Linked DNA regions of Homo sapiens. The protein of the gene in region 3 interacts with the protein of the main gene of each other region in a pairwise test. Each region holds a gene or a part of one and is shown on either strand. Other genes may lie near its edges.

Region 1 (5,230 bases), on a different chromosome or scaffold from region 3:
TTAGTGCCCTGTGCCTGCTGCTGCCTGTGCTGCAGGAAACAGCCCAGAGTCGAAGGACGGTCACCCGGGAGACAGTCCTGCTCTGGCATGCAAACATGGAGCATCGCAACAGGCTGGCCTCGGCTTTCCAAGAACTCAGACTGTCACTGCCGCCTTCACATTCCAGACCCCAACAGCAGCTGAGCCCGCACTTCTGAGTGCGTGGCCGGGTAGAGCTCCAGAAACTGAGACAATCACAGACCCAGCAGGTGCGTCAAGGGCTATGAGCAGCTCTCAGGACTGGCAGCATCACCTTGTGGGATTCCCCACCATCCCATGAAATCGGCACTAATCCCGTAGAGGCCACTAGGAAGCTGGGGCCACATGGCAGGTGAGGGGGTATGTCAGGTCACCTACGCAGGGGCAGACCCCATCTCGGCCACACTGGGGGCCTCCCCTGGCAGGAAGGGCAGGGCCAGACAGGGAGAGAAGGGTACTCAGAGGGCACTTCCAGCCAGCAGTAGAAACATCTACCCAGGAGATCTTTACCAAGACAGACCAGAAGCTGTGGAGACCAACGGACAGGAGGGGGAGGCAGAGAGGCCACAGAGACTGCAGGCCCGCTATGTGCACCCTGGAAGCGGAGTCCTGCAGCCCTTGCCCACGTTCCCTGTCCTGGGGGCTCCCTGCTGCCCTCGCACTGTGACACCGATGAAGGTCGGGAGCATGTGGGCACGGTGCCTGCAGGGACAGTGCTGCAGCGAGAGCTGACTCACCTCGCTGTCCTGCGTGATCTGGACTTGCTCCCCCTGCGGCACCTGGGCGATGTGGAGGTGTCCCTGTGGGATCCGCAGCAAGAAAAGACACCAAGAAGCATCAGAAGAAAATCAAAAGCAAAGGAAACAAGAAACATCTTCCGGAATGTTTGTTCTTGATTATCTGTTTACAATTCAAAAAGATAACTAAATCCTGAATAGTGCAATATAGTCTGTGGTCACTTCTTTAAATTAAGCTTTTGGTTCACAGTAGTCCCCCTCATCCATGAGGGTTTCAAGAAGCACCCCCTACCCCCACCACGTGGACGCCAGAAACTGTGGATGGTGCTGAACCCCATATATGCTATGCTTTTTCCCGCCCATATGTGCCACACAGCTTGGACATGCTGGACAAAGGAACGACTCACGTCCCGGGCTGGACAGAGCAGGACGACCAGACTTCATCATGCTACTACTCAGAAGAGTATGTAATCTGAAACTTACAAATTGTTTATTTCTGGAGTTTCTCATCTAATATTTTCAGATCACAGTTGACTATGGGTAATTAAAGCCTGGGAAAGTGGAAGCATGGGTAAGGGGGGGCTGCTGTGTAACACAGAACATTTTCCAGCACTTCACAAAGGAGCAATAGGTCCCAGGAAAGATATTTACATCTTTAAATGTTACTAAACAAGTAAATTTTAAAATGTGCATGACACACAGAAAAGAGGGGAAATAGAAAATCACAATGACACCTCTTTTCAAATGATACGTTCAGCTCTCTGGGGATACTGGGAGGCTACGCAGTGTGTGGCTGAAGCAGGGGAGCTGTTGGCGTGCCTACACTCACAACAGGGCAGGCAACGTTTTTCAAATCAAAGAAACACTCATATGACTATTTAGACAGTTTCAGTAAACACTAATAAATGTGATTCAAAAAAAATCAAAGAATCCACTGTTTATACATATGGGCAGACAAATAATTCCTATAAACCTGTAAATGAAACGAATACTCCTTATCTTATTTGAAATTCTCTCTTAGTCGAAATGGATCTTAAAATAAACTCCTGTAGAATGTTCTATGTAAGCCTTATGACAAAGTTATCTACTCTGGAACGCTTTCAAAGAACTTCTTACTAACAAGATGAGAGGAACTGCCGTTGTGAATGTCAAACAAATTAATAAGCTTATTAAATAAGATTCACTATTCATAACTGTCTCATCTCCTTTGGAAGAGGAAGGGTAACGCCCCCTCTAAAAGCCCCAGAATTTTCCGGAAGCCTTCCCTCTTCCAGACAGCATGCTGAAGCCACACTGAGATGAGAGCCACGCCCCACTCTCAATAGTGGAGGACCATGTTTCCAGGAGAAAGCCCTGGTGACACGGAGGCACACGATGACCTGTCTTCAGAGGGCCCAAGGGGGCTGGTGCCACTAAAAACATAGGCGAGGTCTAGTGGTGCATGTAAAATTTCTAGTCACTCAGCAAAGCTTCCAGAAAAGTCTTCCTTCCTTCTCAGCCACGCCCTACTCTCATGCCACAGAATCCAGGAGGTGTTTGTAGAGGGACTTCACCCGGGAGCAAGCCCCTAGGCGCATCAGGCTGACCACAGCTTGGGTCACAAAACCCCAATAGAGAACTCCGCACGGGCAAGGCAGGACATTGACTTGCTGCTGGGACAGTGCCCGCCCAACCTGGGTGTGCTGAGTAACTCCAAGGGACACGCTGCATGGGAACAATGACCTCAAGCTTTTGCCACTGATCCTAGAAGGAAATTACTCTTTCCCTCAGTAAGAGAGCGCCTGCACTTCTGAACTGAGAAATATTTCCGATGTTTCCCAGGAGCACGAGCTGGGGCAGGGACCACCGCACGGCCTGACCCTTGGAGCTGACTGCCCGCCTGCCTGCTGGCAGGACTGAGGTGAGCTGACTGAATGCCCCACCCCACCATGTGCTTCAATCCCTAGGCTCTGCAGCAGCCGCCCCCACCTGTGAAATGTTAAGAGCTCATGGCCACGATGACCTCTACTTTAAATGGGGACCTTGTGCCTCCTCCCAAGCTATCACTGTGCTCCCAAAACACAGCGGAACCGGTGGAAGCCGCCATGGCCCTGCCGTGGCCCACCCCGCAGCCCCCTTTCCCAAGGTGTGAGGTGGAGAGGGTACGTACTACTTGCACCTGTCCGTCTTCTCCGATCTGGTGGATCTGCACCTGCTGTGCGTTGGCCAGCGCGTAGTGCAGGGCCTGCGGCTGCGGCTGTGGCTGCGGGAGCTCGCTGGCAGGAGGTGGGGTGCTCATCATCGGCTCTGTGGGGGCAACAGGTGTGAACGGGGTGAACGAGAAGTTTCTTAGGCATTGCCTGGTGTGGCATGTGTGCACCCCCGTCCCCCACTGTCGACTCCCACAGCAGAGAAGAGGAAATGCTTCATTTTTCCTCGACTCACTGCATCTCCACTCTTCTGCAGAGATCACTACCAGTGAGTCTTAGGAACTGAGGCTTCCGACATGGAATGCAAAAGGGCCTGAGAGTGGCGTGATGCTGCTATGACAAAACCCCTTCTAGTCCCCAACTTATTTAAATGAATGAAGTTCTTAAAGTGGACATTAAAAGCTGTTTCAGGCTGGCAATATTTGTCCATGGGTAATTAAACTAATAGAGCAAAAGTCTCATCCGCACACTTAAAGATACATTTCCAACAAATTTTACTTGCTGTGTTTAATCAAAATGAGATACATTTGCTTTGATGTACTGTGTATTAATTTTCACTGTAATGATGTCTCAATCATAATTTTCTTAAACTCTCAGAATATTAAGAGCGCAGAAAAACTTTTTAATTTTCAATGTATACACGTAGTTTTGTTGCAGAGAATTATAATGACTAATTTTAAAAAGCTTTTAAGCATAAAAATGTAGTCCGGACACGGTGGCTCACACCTGTAATCCCAGCACTCTGTGAGGCCAAGGCAGGTAGATCACCTGAGGTCACGAGTTCAAGACCAGCCTGGCCAACATGGTGAAACCCCATCTCTACTAAAAATACAAAAATTAGACAGGCGTGGTGGTGGGGGTCTGTAATCCCAGGCACTCAGGAGGCTGAGGCAGGAGAATCACTTGAACCTGGGAGGCGGAGGTTGTAATGAGTCGAAATGGCACCACTACACTCCAGCCTGGGCAACAGAGCGAGACTCCATCTCGGGGGTACAGGGGAGGGAAGCAGTAAGATGAAATTCTGTGAGAGAAGTAGAATGTTGATATGAATGAAAGGAGAAAAATGAAAGACATAAAATTATTGATTATTAAAGAGAAGCGGGCCAGGCGCGGTGGCTCACGCCTGTAATCCCAGCACTTTGGGAGGCCAAGGCGGGCAAGATCACTTCAGGTCAGGAGTTCGAGACCAGCCTGACCAACATGGTGAACCCCGTCTCTACTAAAAATACAAAAATTAGCCAGGTGTGGTGGCACGCGTCTGTAGTCCCAACTACTTGGGAGGCTGAAGTAGGAGAACCACTTGAACCTGGGAGTAGGTGGTTACAGTGAGCTGAGATGGCACCATGGCACTCAGCTCCAGGCAACAGAGCGAGCGGGGGAAGGGACGGGGAGGGGCAAGAGAGGGGAGGGCAAGAGCGGGGGAGGGGAGAGAAAAGCTTTCCATGTATTTTTTACCAATAGCTAATGGTAGGTATTAAATTGCCATAGTACCTAGATTCCACTGAATACATTTTTTAAAGTAACAATAAAATGTTGGGTTTCTTTTTTTTTTTTTTTGAGAGAGAGTCTTGCTCTGTCACCCAGGCTGGAGTGTAGTGGTATGACCTTGGCTCACTGCAACTTCCGCCTCCCAAGTTCAAGCGATTCTCCTGCCTCAGCCTTCCAAGTAGCTGGGATTACAGGCACCCACCATCATGCTGGGCTAATTTTTTTTTGTATTTTTTTGTAGAGAAGGGATTTCACCAGGTTGGCCAGGCTGGTTTTGAACTCCTGACCTCAAATGATCCGCCTGCCTCAGCCTCCCAAAATGCTGGGATTATAGGTGTAAGCCACTGTGCCCAGTCACATTAACAGAATGTTGATACTTGCAATATGCTAGAAATTGCCTAGCTACACTAAATCAGAATCTGAAATTCATGAGATTCAAAGGAGATTCAACAAGCCCACCTGCATGCTGCATGTGGAGAGCTCGGCTCCAGCCAAAGACCCTGACTCCACCTGAGCACCTCCAGTGATGGGTCATGTCCCAAAGCAACCACCGCCAGGCAGTGCTGCGTGCTCCACGGCGGCTTCCTGTCTGCCTGAGCAGTTACGGAGCACTCACCACCACAGGTCCTCGAGCAAGCCTTGTGCACCCCAGGAAGAAAATGACAAAATCCCAGCTGGGCTGAAGCCCACCTCCGCGGAGCTGCTGTTCCTCCACTGACCCTCTTAGCACCTACAAAACCAGCCTAATTCTTTACTTATGCGCTACTTCTCCAGGCATCTAAGCATTATCAAACCTTG
Region 2 (5,230 bases), on a different chromosome or scaffold from region 3:
TGTCTAATAAAATCCACTAAAAGCAAACCCAGTAATCTCACTATCTGATTTAGACTGCAACATGGTATACCAGGTATTTCTTTCAATTTCACAATAGTGGGATACTTTTTACACTGATTGTAAATGTCTCTTAAAAAAAACACACACACACACACATTACCTCCAAAAAAATTTTTTAAAATCTCCGAGTAAAAAATTTAAGAAAGATAAGATTCAAAATTTAAAGAATGATACAGCTTATTAATTTTGAAAATAACAAAAACTAAATTAAAAGGAAAATGGGACAATGAAGTGTTATAGAAACTCTAAGTCATCTTAAAAATTTCCAGAAAACACATTAGAATCAATATTGATTAAAATATGATTATTAAATGCTAAAAGGTAACATTTTTACATTTTTTATTAATATCAGTTAAAAAACAAAATTCTACTCAATTCTTAAGCTAAAGTGTTCTTGCTGTAATTTCATTGCCATTCTCTTGTTGTTCTTCCCATAAAAATAAATGGCTGGGTCAGAAGTGAAATGACATGTGTTCCAGTGTTTTCTGTCATTCAGTAATTATGCATTACCATTATGTCCAAAGATTGCCTTCTAGTTACTTTCTTCTAGAGTTGCTCAAAATGGGCCTTGTGACTCTACAATGAGAGTTTCAAGGGATGATGTCAGAGGCCGATACTCCTTGGAGGCAGCAGGGTGAGATTAGTCACGCCTCACTTTTTTCCCCATGTCTTGGTCCTATGGACATTCTGTTCATTTCCAGTATCAGCCAGCTCATCAGACAGGCCCTCCTTTTCCTTTCTCCATTTGACTATTTAGGTTTCGTATTTATTTTGAGAGCTTTTTCCCATGAGAATGAATTGCCCAAGCAGACCCTATGTACATCAATGAGCCAACAGATGATTTTCTTTGCAACTGCAATATCAGTAAGATTAGCATTCTGTATGGTTTTAAGTCAGTGATTTACTCTGCTATGGCTTGACATAGCTCCTGCCCTTTTCTACAGATACACACAGACTCATTTCTGTAAAGATCAGTGCATAGGCATATTTGAAACCAATGTTTAGCGCTGTGCTAAATTAATCATATAGATTATTTTTAAAATCTTTATAATAACTCTAGGAGAAGGGTATCAAGAAACATATATTTGTATGGAGATAAGGGACCAATCATATTCATTAGGTTTGTTATTTTTTTTTTTTTTTAGATAGAGTCTCACTCTGTCACACAGGCTGGAGTACAATGGCATAATCTCGACTCACTGCAACCTCCACCTCCCGGGTTCAAGCGATTCTCCTGTCTCAGTCTCCTAAGTAGCTGAGATTACAGGTGGCTGTCACCTTGCCTGGCTAATTTTTTGTGTTTTTAGTAGAGATGGGGTTTCACAATGTTGCCTAGGCTGGTCTCGAACTCCTGACCTCAGGTGAACTGCCCGGCCGCGGCCTCCCAAAGTGCTGAGATTACAGGCATGAGCCACCACGCCCAGCTAGTTAGGTTTTCTTAATGGAAAGAAATGAAATTCTTTCAACCCTGTTAGAATATATAGCAGGATTAGAGGTAACTGATAAGACATTGTGCCAAGTAAAATACATATACTTCCTATCATTGTTTGCCTTACAGCTGAAAAACACCTAAAAAAACTTACCTAGCTTCATGAAGGAGATATACATTCAAAGTATAACCATTCTTTCATTATTAGCTGACACACTATTCTTTGTCTAAAGATTTACCGTGTAAATATATTCTTAGTCAAACACGATTCAGTTATTAAATTTGTTTGTAGCATGGTAGCACTTCTGTGGCACTGTAATAACTTTATGCTGTAAACTAGACCCTTTAATACTCGGTCAGCAGTTCCTTTCTAAGCATCATTGCCATGGCCACTAACATTATCATTAGCCTTTAGTATCTACTATTATCTAAGACTGTGTGTTTTGTACCAAAAACACAAAGTTCCAGAAAACAATGTTCCTGGATAAAGGCTCAGGGTTTGTTTTCTATGTGTCAAATGAGTGGAAACTTACTTAAGGAAGAGAGAAAAGGCATCTGGCTTTCATTTAGCACCTTGAGTCAAGCTCTATGCTAAATTATTCATATACATTATTTAAAAATCTTTACAATAACTCTATGAGATGGGTATCAATAAACACATATTACAGTTGAGGAAGTTGATGTAAGAGATTTCAATTTAGTAATCCAAGATCACATTGCAACCAGAAGGTAAAGGCTGGAACATGAATCTAAAACAAATGGACTCCAAAGACTGTATTTTCCAATCCTGTGTAGCTTTGCCAATTAATATTAAATTGTCACCAACTCTCTCATTTTATGAGAATAAAAATGTGAGTCTCATTTTATTGAACCTCTTCTTTAAGACATTTTCTATATTTTTAATTATCGTTTGTGGCTTTCCTATAAATCCTACACAAGTTTTATATATTTATCTAAATCTGTCTAATTCACAACTTAAGACAATTATGACAAAGATCTAAGAAAAGCAAATAATACCTTTGAAATTACAGAACTTTACAGAAGAAAATATTTTTACCAATTATTTAATTTAACCCCCTTATTTTATAAATTAAAAAAAACTGTACCCAAAGAGTTCATATAACTTATTACCAAGAAATTTTCTATTAAAGACTCTTGTTTTCTAATTCCGGATACATGGTATGAAATTGGTTCATTTAATTCAGTCACTTAATCATTCAATGCATATCTATTTCAGATTTTCCACATAGAAACACATTGTTGTGAGCATCAGAAAAAATGAGGCACCATAAGAAGATATGGTATTTGTAGACTTAGTGGGATAATAGGAGATGAAAATTGAAGCGCATGCTGTGTGCTCCTGGTATATGCTGATAAACTGATGTAAAAAGCTCTAAAACAGTGGGGCGCGGTGGCTCACATCTGTAAGTGTGGCTCCGAGCACTTTGGGAGGCCGAGGCGGGCAGATCACCTGAGGTCAGGAGTTCAAGACCAGCCTGGCCAACATGGTGAAACCCCGTCTCTACCAAAAAAATACAAAAATTAGCTGGGCATGGTGGAGGGTCCCTGTAATCCCAGCTACTCAGGAGGCTGAGGCAGGAGAATCGCTGGAACTGGGGAGGCGGAGGTTGCAGTGAGCCGAGATCGCACCACTGCACTCCAGCCTGGGTGACAAGAGCGAAACTCCATCTCAAAAAAAAAAAGTTCTAAAGCATCTGTTCTCCACCTATTACTTTGCATTTCATTCACCTCACACCAGCATCTTTGCTTCTCATTGAATATTCTAAGCTCAGTCCATCTTCAGGGCCTTTGCACTATCTGTCCCTTCTGTGTAGAATTACTTTCCCCTAGGTAACCACATGATGAGTATTCTTATTTCCTTCAGCTATCTGCTCAAACATAACTGTGCCACACAGGGCTTTTGTTATCACCTTATGTAAAATAACATATTTTGTAACAATTGTTTGTTTCCTGTTTCTACCCTAAAAGCTCCATGAGGGTAGAGCCTTGGGCTGTCTCAGGACTTAGCACATTGCCTAACACATAGCAGGAGGTTAATAAATGTTTGCTGAATATGTCAATGAATAAAACAGGAGACATATTTGAAGATCAAATTTAAGATAGTTCCAAGAAAACTTTAGTAGTAGTTATGAAAACATTGCCTTTATTAACCCTTTCTATGCTACAGTTTAACATCTGCTAAAGGAACTTGTGTAATGTGTTTTGCAAATTACAGAGAAAATGCTGATGTGTTGTAGGGTTTCTGCACATTCACAACATCCCACTAAAAATTATTTTGAATATGATTCTATAGACAATCACTCTCACACCAAGAAATAATTTGGGACATTAATTCTGATTTTTCAGTTTAAATGATAGCAAGGTTGCATATGCCCATGTGCTAAAAGAAGTAGACATTATATTTATTACTCTCCTGGCACTGATTATCTTAATAGGATTCATTATTGATATATCAAATTATTTATTAAAGCCATCTAACTCACTAATGTTTTCCTATTTTCTTCCTCTACAAATTATTAAAATTATTCATCACGTCCTGTTAAATAGGACATTAGTCTATTACATAAGCATCATAGGCTTCCAAGGACTAAGTCTCAGTTCTCATAGTAAGCCCATATTATTTACTAATCAAATAACTAGTATGTTTTTCAGTTCATTTCCATCAAGGCCTTGGATATTTTATTTGTATTCCACCTTCCCCTTTATAGTCACTGTTTAGTGTTGTTTATATTTACTAAAAAGAAAAGTAAAGAAGCAAAGAAAAAAAAGAAGGAGAGGAGAGGAGAAGAGGCAAACAGGGAGGGAAGGAAGGAGAGAGGGTAAGAAGGGAGGGAGGGAGAGAAGAAAAGAAAGGTCAAGTAGGTAAGAAAAGATCAGGCCCAGCAATTCCATGTGGCCAGGACTTCTACAGTAGAGCAGAACCATTCCTGTGCTGCCCAGAAGGTACCACTAGTCACTGCTCACTGCTCACCTGGCCCTGCCCACAGGTAGCCAGCTTTTCCTCATGATAGGAATTACCCAGAGCCCTTGTTAAAGTGTGATTCCCACACCTTCCTATGAAGATTCTAGTTCAATAGATTCGAGATAAGGGGGTCCTGCAAACTGTCCTTAACAGGACTAGATCAATGATTATCAAACTCTGCACTGGAGTCACTGGGAGGGCTGGTTAAAACACAGATTGCCCCACCCCAGAGCTTCTGATTCTGCAGGTCTGGGGTGGAGCCCAAGAATTCGCACTTCTAACAAGCTCCCATGTGGCACTGATGTTCCTGGTCAGGAAAATCACACCTCGAGAACCATTTTACTAGATCATTCCTATAACCAGGTGAATTTGGAAGAAATCACCACTGTAGCAAATTTCTCTGAAGCTGTCATTGGAATGACGTATTATGTTTTTATCTAACCCTGTAATTACCCTGATTTAGATGTCACCAATAATTTTCTATGAGTCAGAAATCAGTTTCAAACACATCTCTGTGAGCTCGATACAGAGAGAAATAAAGGAGTCCAATGTGCTGCTCTTTCTTTATCAAGGTAAAAACACTAGTTTAAGCCATGTGGATGCTGCCAAAATGCCTAGAGTGTATACTATAAAGAGTTAATACAATAACAAATCAGGATAAAGAAGCCTATTCAAAGAACACAGACAGCTTTCAATGTCTGTATTCCTGGGTCAGACTCAGGTCTCTGGTATGTCACCACATAGCACCTATTGGAATG
Region 3 (5,230 bases):
TACTTTCTCCCTTCTTCTCCCAACATAGAGGGCAATCATTACTGGGGCTCAGGCACCAAGGGCAGGCCAGGAAGCCGGGTCATCAATGCACGCACAACGTGTTGGTAACTCAGAATTAAAAGATGTTCAGCCAACAACAATCTCGACCCCATGACTTTCAAGAACCCTCGCTGGGGGCTGCTTCTAGGTGGTCTTTATCAAGACAGGGAATTCTGTACAACATAAAAGAGTTTTAAGTCAGAAGGAGGTTTTCTGGGAAGCTGTTTATTTCACCCAGCCTTGTAAACAAACACTGAGCAAAACAGGCAAACGAAAACTCTGCCTGTCCAGCCTAATAATTTTTAAAAATTTAAAATTTAAAGGCTGAATTACACATGCAGAAAGACAAATGAAACCTACGTACGTACTTTCTATTTGTTACTGGTCATCAATCTTTGCAGGCCAAAGAATGAGTGGTGATCTCCAGAGGTGAATCTTTACACTGATTACTACCACTTGCACTAAAAGCGAAGCTAAGAGAAATATTTTCTCCAAGGGGAGAGGAAGTGTTAGTATGTAGACAGTAATCTTTGCGGAGAAACAGGAAGTTTGTTTATAAAAATCAGGCTATTTTTAACTAAGAAAGAAAGCTGGTCAGAATAGAGATCTCTACCTTGACCTGTAATTCCATCTTAGACACTATCTTGTATCTCCTTTTCTACAGGGTTTCCTGAAAATGGAGAGAAGGAACCCTTAATCTTTCCTGTAACATATTTAAGAAAGTACAGCCTTCCCCCCTGGAAGCTTTCCCTTTGGTCAGAGATTCTTCTCACCGTACACGAGAGTGGAAAACTCTCAACACACAGAAACACGCACAGACGCACATATCCCCTTCTCCTAGCACACACCTTCCTCTGCAGCCCTTCCACACAAGGCACACACGTATACACTCTGGTGATGCCCTCTAGCTAGCTGGGAGCCAGGTGGATAAACCTGCCCCGGTCTCTCATGTGCGATATGAGGTGAGATCATTAAGGAAGAGAGAGGTGTCATTTGGGGCAAACATCAGGCAGTGGGTGATATCATTGCTGTCAGACGATCCTCGTCAGTCCTGAAGGAGTGTCAGCTTGATTTAGAGGGGATCATTAATCTCTTGAGGGTGGATCTGTTAGCTGGATAGGTGTTAGTTGTATGGTGTGCTCTCGGGAACCAAGTTTGAAAGGACTGGTGGTGAAGTGAGTGAAGTCCTGGCCGATGGGTATCAATTACCTGGGCATGCAGTGAAGCGGGATAGGTGAAAGCAGGAGGAGGTAGAGCAGGCGCTAACTCCGCTGGGTACAGAGGGTACGGGGCCCACACTTCAGGGCTACTGGGGTAAAGTGCAGGCACTGTGAGCTCATCTGCAAGAAAAGAATAAGGCGAGAGTTAGTGGTTACCATACAGCTAGTTTCAAATCAGAAAACAAAACACCCAACAACCCCGAGCCCCAATCACTGTCGGAAGTCAAATTACTCTCATTCTTTTAACAACCTGTTGTTTGTTGGCTTTGGTCCCACAAATGCTAAGTAAGGGAACGAAAAATATAACACAAGAAAAGCAACAAGCATCTGCTGCCTGTCTGGCCTGCTGAGATCTCAGGCCTGGACTCCGCCTTGAACACTCTGATGTCTTTCCGACTGTAGCTGGGGAACCCAAAACAGTGGGAATTTCCTGCACAAAACAGGAAATGCGACCCTCTGAGGAAAAGGGAGAGAAAGAACCAATGAAAGACATCCCATGAGAACCCACTGCAGAGCCTTTGGGAAAACCATGGCTTAACGGCAGGGCCTCAACAGACCAGAACTGGAAGACTTTTCTGTTTATTGGCATAATTACTATTGACAAGTCAGTAATGATCATCAAGCATTTTCCACGTAGCCCTCAGAAGTACAGGGCCAAATACTGTGACCACAGGGCATTTAAGATCTTAAAAATTCAGAGAATTGAAGTGAAAAACCTTGAGAATCCTGATTAAAATTACACTCCACAAAGATGTAAACAGGAACATTTCCAGTTGCTCTTTACAGACTAACTTTTAGGGGAAAAAAGTGAGTCATATTGCCAAGTGCCTGGTCTAAGTGTTCCTCAGGCAGCTCCAATTCCACCCAGGTCAGGCTGCAGTTGGCCAGATTGAAGGGCAAGTGCCTGGGCCTCCCATGTATCAGGAAGCAATCCATTAAAAGTAACAGCAAACACATGAGGGAGCTTCTCAGGAAAGGCAAAAATAACATCAGTCAATAGCAAGGAATCTGGGCCCTGTGAAGCAGCAATCTCAATATGTGCTTTTATCACCTGTCAAAATCTGAAATCAAGTGTGCCAAGGACGCTATCCAGGACTAACACGGGAGTCAGCAAAAGGTGATTTGATAGAAGTCATTAGTAACTCTGCCATTCAGTACTTTCCCTGAGTCTACAGTGCAAGGTCAACAGAGTCACTTTATTCCTTCCTACCATCTAAGGAGCCATTCCAGGCCCAGTGTCTCTGCATCCTTCCCATCCCCCGAAACTCTTCAATACAGAAAGGGGGCTAGCAACAGAAAACTGCTTTGCTCGGTGTGATGTGGGACTGCTCTATGGCGAAACCAGAAAGTAGCAGAACCTGTGTGAGGCTTCCCCACAGCCAGCTTGCATGGCACGAGCTTCTCTCAGGATGGTAGGGAGTCAGGAGCTGACTGCTGATGATACGTTCAGAGGGCAGTTTGTACCCATTTTCAGATATGATGGGACCCCAACAATGTGGTTTAACATACTGTTGCTGGTTGGCCTTCCTGACTCCCTTCTCCTCTCAACAAGGCAGTAAAAACTACCTCCTCAGGACTTGGTGATAGAAAGACAGACTGCCTGTGCATCTAGGTGGGAGAAATAAGCCCCTAAGAGTGGACTGATCATTATTAGTCAGGGTGAAAGCAACAACACCAGAGTCCTTAAAATGATCAGGTCCACAGCATCTACTGTGTTCTAGGGTGTGTAGGTGCCTGTAGCCCAAGGCTTAGGGACCACCCTCAGAGGGGCTGGGAGGGGCTTAATAGATCCCTGTGCTTCCTGTTGTGATGAGACCATGTGATTTCCAGAGTAACTCACGTGGGAGCCCAGCTAGTGGAAACTAACTGCTACCAGAACCAATGCCTTGAATTTTAAACAAACAACCATTCTCAGGAATGCCAAACTATTATTGTTGTTTAGCGACCAGGCTATTTTAAGACATTCTGAGTCTTTTAAATCCTCAGTACACTGTGGCCCATGCTTGTCTGTTCCCACTGTGATAGCAGAAGACCATAAAACTGATACATACAACTGATTCCAAATGGCAGAGCCCTCAGGGGGAACGTGTTTGGCCTGCAGCCTGTCAGTGGTCCTTCCTTATCTTCCTGGCTAACTGGGGTGGGGTGGGTAGAGGTGGTTACCTGATCAGTAGGTCCTTCCTTTAGAAACTTTTAAAAATGAAATGAGTATGTCCTTTAAGATATCTGATCCTAAAGAGATAAGCAACAGAGATAAGCTGGAATCAGATTTCAGTGTCAGCCTGACTGCTGGAATTTATGTTTCCCAGACTTTTCTCTGTTTTTATCCTGAAGCATTACTTCCCATTAGTTCTTTACTGATGCTTAGAGACAATTCACCATTGATATTTGCACAAAACCCAGCCCAGCAGAAAAGAGGATTTGGTCTGAAATCCCCTAAACTCAAAATTGCTGAGTAGTAGTAACGTATTAGTGAGGCAGAAGCCTAAAAGAGATAAAGGTGAACTTACACTTGATAAATCCCTTGATACATCTTATCATCTCCGTCTCCCTTCTCCCATCATGAAGGAATGTGGAATTACCATAAACATCAAAAGATACGTGGTCTGACCAGGTCAGGATCGCACCTGAAGCAGTCCTCACCAACACCTAACTTTCCAGTATGAGCCTGAGCACTCTCCTAACACACACATACACTCCTTTGACGGAAATGGGTATTAAAGCAGAATAAGCTTTTTGCGTTTGTTTGCTTTTTCGTTGCTTGAGAAAATTACAAAAGCTAGAGAGACTGGTTTTCCACAGCACAAGCCCTTCACAAGGACTCCCCACTGAAGGAGCAGGCAAGGCCCTGATGGGTTTCACCTTCCTGAGTCACTGCCCATCCTGCTCAAACTTTACAGGATGGAAGGCTGAAAAAAGAAGACAAAGATTGCTGCCCAAGGCCCACTGGGATGAATTGGAGTTTAGGGAGGGGGTGAGATTCCTCTTGACAAAAGAGGCTCTTGACCACCCAGAGTGAGCCAGGCCCCAGTAAGCAGAAAGAGGGCAGATCAAGAGGCCAGGGCTTTTTTGTCTGGGCCTAATCCATCCCTCCTGAGAGGCAGGGCAAATCCTTTCCCATTGCACCAATCTGGCTACATCTTTTCTTTTTTGCACCTTCTGAGGATAATGTTGTTGAGGGCTCACAATATACATCTGAATAGGCTTTTTTTCTTAGCATGAGAATATGCAACCAGAAGAGCTCAAATTGGATTCTGAAAAACAAGGACTGGAAACTTCCAACTCCACCCTGTAATCCCTTTGAAACGAAAGAACTGCAGAGCGTCTGATGAAGGTTTAAGCCTACAGAGCTTGGGAAGATCATCTTCTGCCTTTTCGTTTTAGATGAGGAAACAGATGCAGAAAGGTGAAGCTTACAGTCTACGGTCACATTGAAAGAGAGATAAACATGAATGACTCTTAGAAACAACTGAGAGATGGAAGAACAAGGAGAATCTTTAATGGACTTAAGTATGGCCATGTATCTCTGAGTTTAGTTGGTAACACAAGGTTTAAGAACTTTTTTGCCTCCTGAAAACATCTATTTGGAAATATTCCATAGCAACTTCATGCTCGACATACTCAAAACTAAACATGCTCCCTCAATGACCTGTCCTCGTTGGCTCCAGATTTCAGCAAGATGCTACCTTCCACTCAGCTGCCCAAGCCACAGACCTGGTGGTCACCCCATCCTCCCTCTCATTCATTCTTTCATCAAGGTCCTGGTGAATCTATCCCATGATCCAGTTTGATCTTCACCAACACTACTGGATTACTGAAAAGGCCTCCTAAAAGCCCTCCCGGCTTCCACACTCAAGTCAAGACAACTTTAAAAATACACAGTTTGGCTGCGTGCAGTGGCTCACACCTGTGATCCCAGTGCTCTGGGAGGCAGAAGCAGGAGGAAGAAGATCGCTTGGACCCAGGATTTG
Region 4 (5,230 bases), on a different chromosome or scaffold from region 3:
CAAGCAACATCAACCAAATATTACCTGATATTAATATCAGATAAAATCACAGCAACAAAGATTACCAGAAACAGAGGAGGGCATTATATAATGATTAAAGTGCGAATCCACAAAGATTGCCTAGAAATCCCAAATGTACATGCACCAAAAACAGAGCTATAAAATATTTAAAGTAAAAAAGTAGAACTAAAAGGAGAAATAGACAAATCTACAATTATAGTTGGAAACTTCAATCCCCCCATCTCAGCAGATGATAGAACAACTAGGCAGAAGAGCAGTAAGAATATAAAATTCTACAATATTAGCAACGAATAGGACTTAATTGACATTTATATTTTATTCAACAACAATAGAACACACATTTCTTTCAAGTGCCAGTGGAATATATATCAAGATAGACCATATCCTGGGCTATAAAATAAACCTCAACAAATTAAAATGGTTAAATTATTCAGATTGTTAGCGCTGATCACAATAAAACCGAACTAGAAATTAGTAACAGAATGATAACAGGAAAATCTCCAAACACTTGGAAACTAATCAACATACTTCTAAATAGTTCATGGGACAAAAAGGAAGTCTCAAAGGAAATTAAAAATTCAGTGAACTAAACGAATTTGAAAATACAGCATATCAAAATTTATGGGAAACAGTCAACACAGTGCTGAGAGGAATATTTATAGCACTAAATGCACAGTTAAAAAAGAAAAAAGTATCAAATCAATAAATAAGTGTCTACCCCAAAAAATCTAAAAAAAAAAGATGAACAAAATAAACTCAAAGCAAGCAGAACGAAAGAAATAGTAAAGATAAGAGCAGAAACCAGTGAAATAAAAAACAGAAAAACAACAGAGAAAATCAATGAAGTATGGAGCTGGTTTTTAAAAGATCAGTAAAATTGATAAATCTCTAGTAAGATTAACATGGAAAATATAGAGAAGACACAAATTAACAATATTAGGAACAAAATCAGAGATATCATTACAGACACTGCAGATAGCAAACAGATAATAAGAATATTAATACTACAAACAATTCTACATATAAATTCACATAAACTTGAGCACTTAGAAAAAATTGACCAGTTCCTCAAAAAGCACAAATTACCTCAGTTCACCCAACATGAAATGAGTACTTGATTAATTATATAACTATTCAGGCAATTCAATTTATAGTCTAAAAATCTCCTCACCCCACAAAAGGCTTCAGACTTAAATCATTTCACTGGAGAATTCTACCAAATATTTAAAGAACAATTATCACCAATGTCACATAATCTCTGCCCCAAAATAGAAGAGAGTTCTTCCTAGTTCATTTCATTAAGGTAATAATACACTGATACCAAAGCCAGAGAAAGACAACACACACAGACAGGCCAGGTGGGATGGCTCACGCCTGTAATCCTAGCAGTTTGGGAGGCCTGAGGCAGGTGTATTGCTTGAGCTCAAGAGTTCAAGACCAGCCTGAGCAACATGGTGAAACCAAGTCTCTACCAAAAACACACACACACACACACACACACACACACACACACACACACAGTTTTAGCTGGGCATGGTGGTGGGTTGGTCCCAGCTACTTGGGAGGCTGAGGTGGAAGGATCAGTTGAGCCTGGGAGGTGGTTGCAGTGAGCTGAGATCAGGCCACTGCACTCCAACATGGGAGACAGAGTGAGACCCTATCTCAAAAAAAAAAAAAAAAAAAAAAAACCACACACGCACACAGAAAAAATTACAAAACAATATCCCATATCCCACATACACGTAGAAGCAAAATCCTTAACATATTATTAGCAAATATAATTAAGCAATATATGAAAAGAATTTTATATCATGAGCCAGTGGGGTTTAATCCAGGGAGGCAAGGCTGTTTCACTATTCAAAGATCAATCAATGTAATTCACTATGTTAATAGGCTAAGGAAGAAAAATCACATTACTGTATCTTTGAGATCTAGAGCTAGGCAAAGATTCACCATGTTAATGGGCTAAGGAAGAAAAATCACTTTAGTATATCTTTGGGACCTAGGGCTAGGCAAAGAGTTGCTAAACAACACCAAAATCATGATCCATAAAAGGAATAATTGATAAACTGGACATCATCAAAATGAAAAACTTTTGCTCTGAGACAGACCCTACTAAGAGGATGAAAAGACAAGCTACAGAATGGGAAACAATATTTTCAAAACATGTAACCTTGAAAACAGTCTAGCATAAATACAGAACTATCAAAATTCACTATTAAAAAAGCAAACAATCCAATTAGAATGTGGGCCAAAACATGAAGAGGCATTTCAACTGAAGAAGATATACAGATGGCAAATAAGCATTTGAAAAGATGGTAAACATCATCAGTCACTAGGGAAATGCAAATTAAAATCACAATGATATATCACTATACACCTATCAGAATGTCTTTAATGAAAAATGATGACAGCACCATTTGCTGGTGAGGATGTGGAGAAACTGGGTCACTCATACATAGCTGCTGAAGATATAAAATGGTACAGACACTCTAGAAAACAATTTAATAAATTCTGTTATAAACTGAATGCAGAACTACCCTGCAATACTGGACATTTATCCCAGTGAAATGAAAACTTGTGTTCTTGAAAAATCATATACCCAAATGTTCATAGCATCTTCCTTCTTGATAATCAAAAACTGAAAACAACCCAGATGTACTTCAATGGGTAAACTATTAAAAACACTGTGGTCCATCCACAGCATGGTATTCAGCAACAAAAGGGAACAAATCATTGAGAACAAGACCCGGGTGAATCTCTAGAGAATTACACTGAATGAAAAAGCCATTCCCAAAAGGTTATATGCTGTATGATTCCATTTGTATATCATTCTTGAAATTACAGAAAAATTATAGAAATGGAGAGCAGAATAGTGATTGGTCAGGGTTTAAGGAGAGATGGGGCCTAGAGAGAAGTGGGTATGGCTATGAAAGGGCAACATGAGGGACCCTTATGGGAATGGAAATATTATGTCTCTTGACTGTATCAATGTCAATATTCTGGTTGTGATATTGTACTATAGTTTTGCTCGATGTTACCACTGGGAAAGGGCACATGGGATAGCCCTGTATTACATCTTAACAACTGCAGGTGAAACTATGATTATCTAAAAAAAACTCAAAATAAAAAATTTAATTAAGAGCTATCAAGCCATGAAAAGACATGAAGGATTCTTAAATGTATATTTCTAAGTAAAAGAAGCCAGTCGGAAAAATCTACTTACTGTATGATTCCAGCTATTTGACATTCTGGAAAAGACAAAACTAGAAGGTAGCATAAAGATCAGTAGTTGCCAGGGACTTGGAAGGAGGTAGAGAGAGACGGATGAATAAGTGGAGCATAGAGGATTTTTAGGGCCGAGAAACTATCCTGTGTGATGCTGTAATGGCAGATATACGACACTGCATTTGTGAAAGCCCGTAGAACTGCGTAACACAAAGAGTGAATCCTAATGTAAACTATGGACTTTAGTTAATGCTGTGGTTTGAATGTCTGTCCTTTCCAAAGCTCATGTTGAAATTTAATTGCCAGGCCAGGCGCGGTGGCTCACGCCTATAATCCCAGCACTTTGGGAGGCCCAGGTGGGCAGATCATGAGGTCAGGAGTTCGAGACCAGCCTGGCCAATGTGGTGAAACCGCATCTCTACTAAAAATACAAAAATTAGCCATGTGTGGTGGTGTGCACCTGTAATCCCAGCTACTCGGGAGGCTGAAGCAGGAGAATCGCTTGAACCTGGGAGGCAGAGGTTGCAGTGAGCTGAGATCAGGCCACTGCACTCCAGCCTAGGTGACAGAGCAAGACTCCATCTCAAAAAAAAAAAGAAAAAAGAAAGAAAGAAATTTAATTGCCATTGTAACAGTATTAAGAGCTCAGACCTTTAAAAGGTAATTAAGCCATGAGTACCCCACCCTCATGGGTGGGATTTGTGACCTTATAAAAAGATGAATTCAGCCCCCTTTTCTCTCTTGTCCTCTGCCATTTGATGACTCAGCAAAAAGACCCTCCCTTGATGCTGGCACCTTAATATTGGACTCCCTGGCCTCTGGAACCATGAACAATGTCTTTCATTATAAACTACCCAATCTCAGGTATTCTGTTATAGCAGCACAAAATGGAGTGCAACAGTTATCAATATTGGTTCATCAGTTGTTACAAATACACACTGATGCAAGATGCTAATAATAGAGGAAACAGCAGCGGGGAAGAAGTTTATACAGCAACTCATCGTACTTTCTCCCTCACTTTCCTGCAAGTCTAAAACTCTAAAAAATAAAGTCTATTATTAAAATGTTTAAAAATTTTTATACTTCTTCCTAATGCAATGCAGAACAGCTTTGTCTGGCTCTCTAGTATCCCCAAACAAAACAAAGCAAAATGCTGCACTTCACAGTCCCCAGGAATGGTAGAAATAGCCTATGGAAAAGGCATAAGAAAAACAGAGCAGAGTACATGAGGGTATTTTGCAACAATTTCCCGGGAGTTGCTCGTCAGCTTTGCTGAGTTCTACAGGGAATATTCACCCTTGCTTATTTGCAAGTGTTTGGAGTCTCTGTCACTATGTGTTTGGACCATGGAAGGATGAGCAAGTTTATTTTTTAGTGTGTCTATGAATATCCCTCAACATACTAGACAATGTGATGGGGATGCGATATTTCAACTTTTTGATTCTGGATTCAAAATAGCAAGTTCAATTTAGATTATAAAAGATAGAAGAGACGTTACGCTCTTGAGGTTATTTATATCCATTGTAACTGTATAGGGAAAATATGTAATGTTCTACTACTGCATATCTGTTTCCAGCTCTGCATTTAGTGCTTCCATGGTGGTAGCTTGAATTTGGCCATGGTGGAAGCATTTATACCACAGAAATTTGCAAATTCTACAAATCAAAACATCCCTACTGCTGCCCCATTCAAGAAGCAATTGTTAAATATATAATAGCATACTAATGGGCACATCCATCAGTGTCAGGGATGTATTGCATAAACAAATAAAACACACAAACAAAATTTTCCAAGGTTTTCTTCCCTTCCCTTCCCTTCTAATAGTTAAATTTATGATGTCACTGGAGCAAGGGTTTCAGAACCATTTGTGAGTTAAGGAATCTAATGCATGATCACTCTCATTACTTAAACTTTCAGAGTCAAGAACGCTGTCAGCTGAGCACACAGATTCTAAGTTCAGCTGTTGCCTGCCCTTCGCTGC

The links. Proteins that work in one complex are often made in the same cells at the same time.
Region 1: the proteins of RBPMS (region 3) and BANP interact in binary tests that used the Homo sapiens proteins (3 or more experiments, as listed by UniProt).
Region 2: the proteins of RBPMS (region 3) and VGLL3 interact in binary tests that used the Homo sapiens proteins (3 or more experiments, as listed by UniProt).
Region 4: the proteins of RBPMS (region 3) and MYOZ2 interact in binary tests that used the Homo sapiens proteins (3 or more experiments, as listed by UniProt).

Annotation. Positions count from the first base shown.
Region 1 is NC_000016.10:88,030,920-88,036,149, reverse strand, and holds part of BANP (protein BANP), read right to left. Parts: intron 3,042-5,230; coding exon 2,905-3,041; intron 828-2,904; coding exon 756-827; intron 1-755. UniProt on the Homo sapiens protein: Controls V(D)J recombination during T-cell development by repressing T-cell receptor (TCR) beta enhancer function. Binds to scaffold/matrix attachment region beta (S/MARbeta), an ATC-rich DNA sequence located upstream of the TCR beta enhancer.
Region 2 is NC_000003.12:86,972,934-86,978,163, forward strand, and holds part of VGLL3 (transcription cofactor vestigial-like protein 3), read right to left. Parts: intron 1-5,230. UniProt on the Homo sapiens protein: May act as a specific coactivator for the mammalian TEFs.
Region 3 is NC_000008.11:30,540,643-30,545,872, reverse strand, and holds part of RBPMS (RNA-binding protein with multiple splicing), read right to left. Parts: intron 1,380-5,230; coding exon 1,249-1,379; coding exon of another isoform or gene 1,102-1,248; exon of another isoform or gene 710-1,101; coding exon of another isoform or gene 698-709; exon of another isoform or gene 245-697; intron 213-244; exon of another isoform or gene 1-212.
Region 4 is NC_000004.12:119,141,818-119,147,047, reverse strand, and holds part of MYOZ2 (myozenin-2), read right to left. Parts: intron 798-5,230; exon of another isoform or gene 1-797.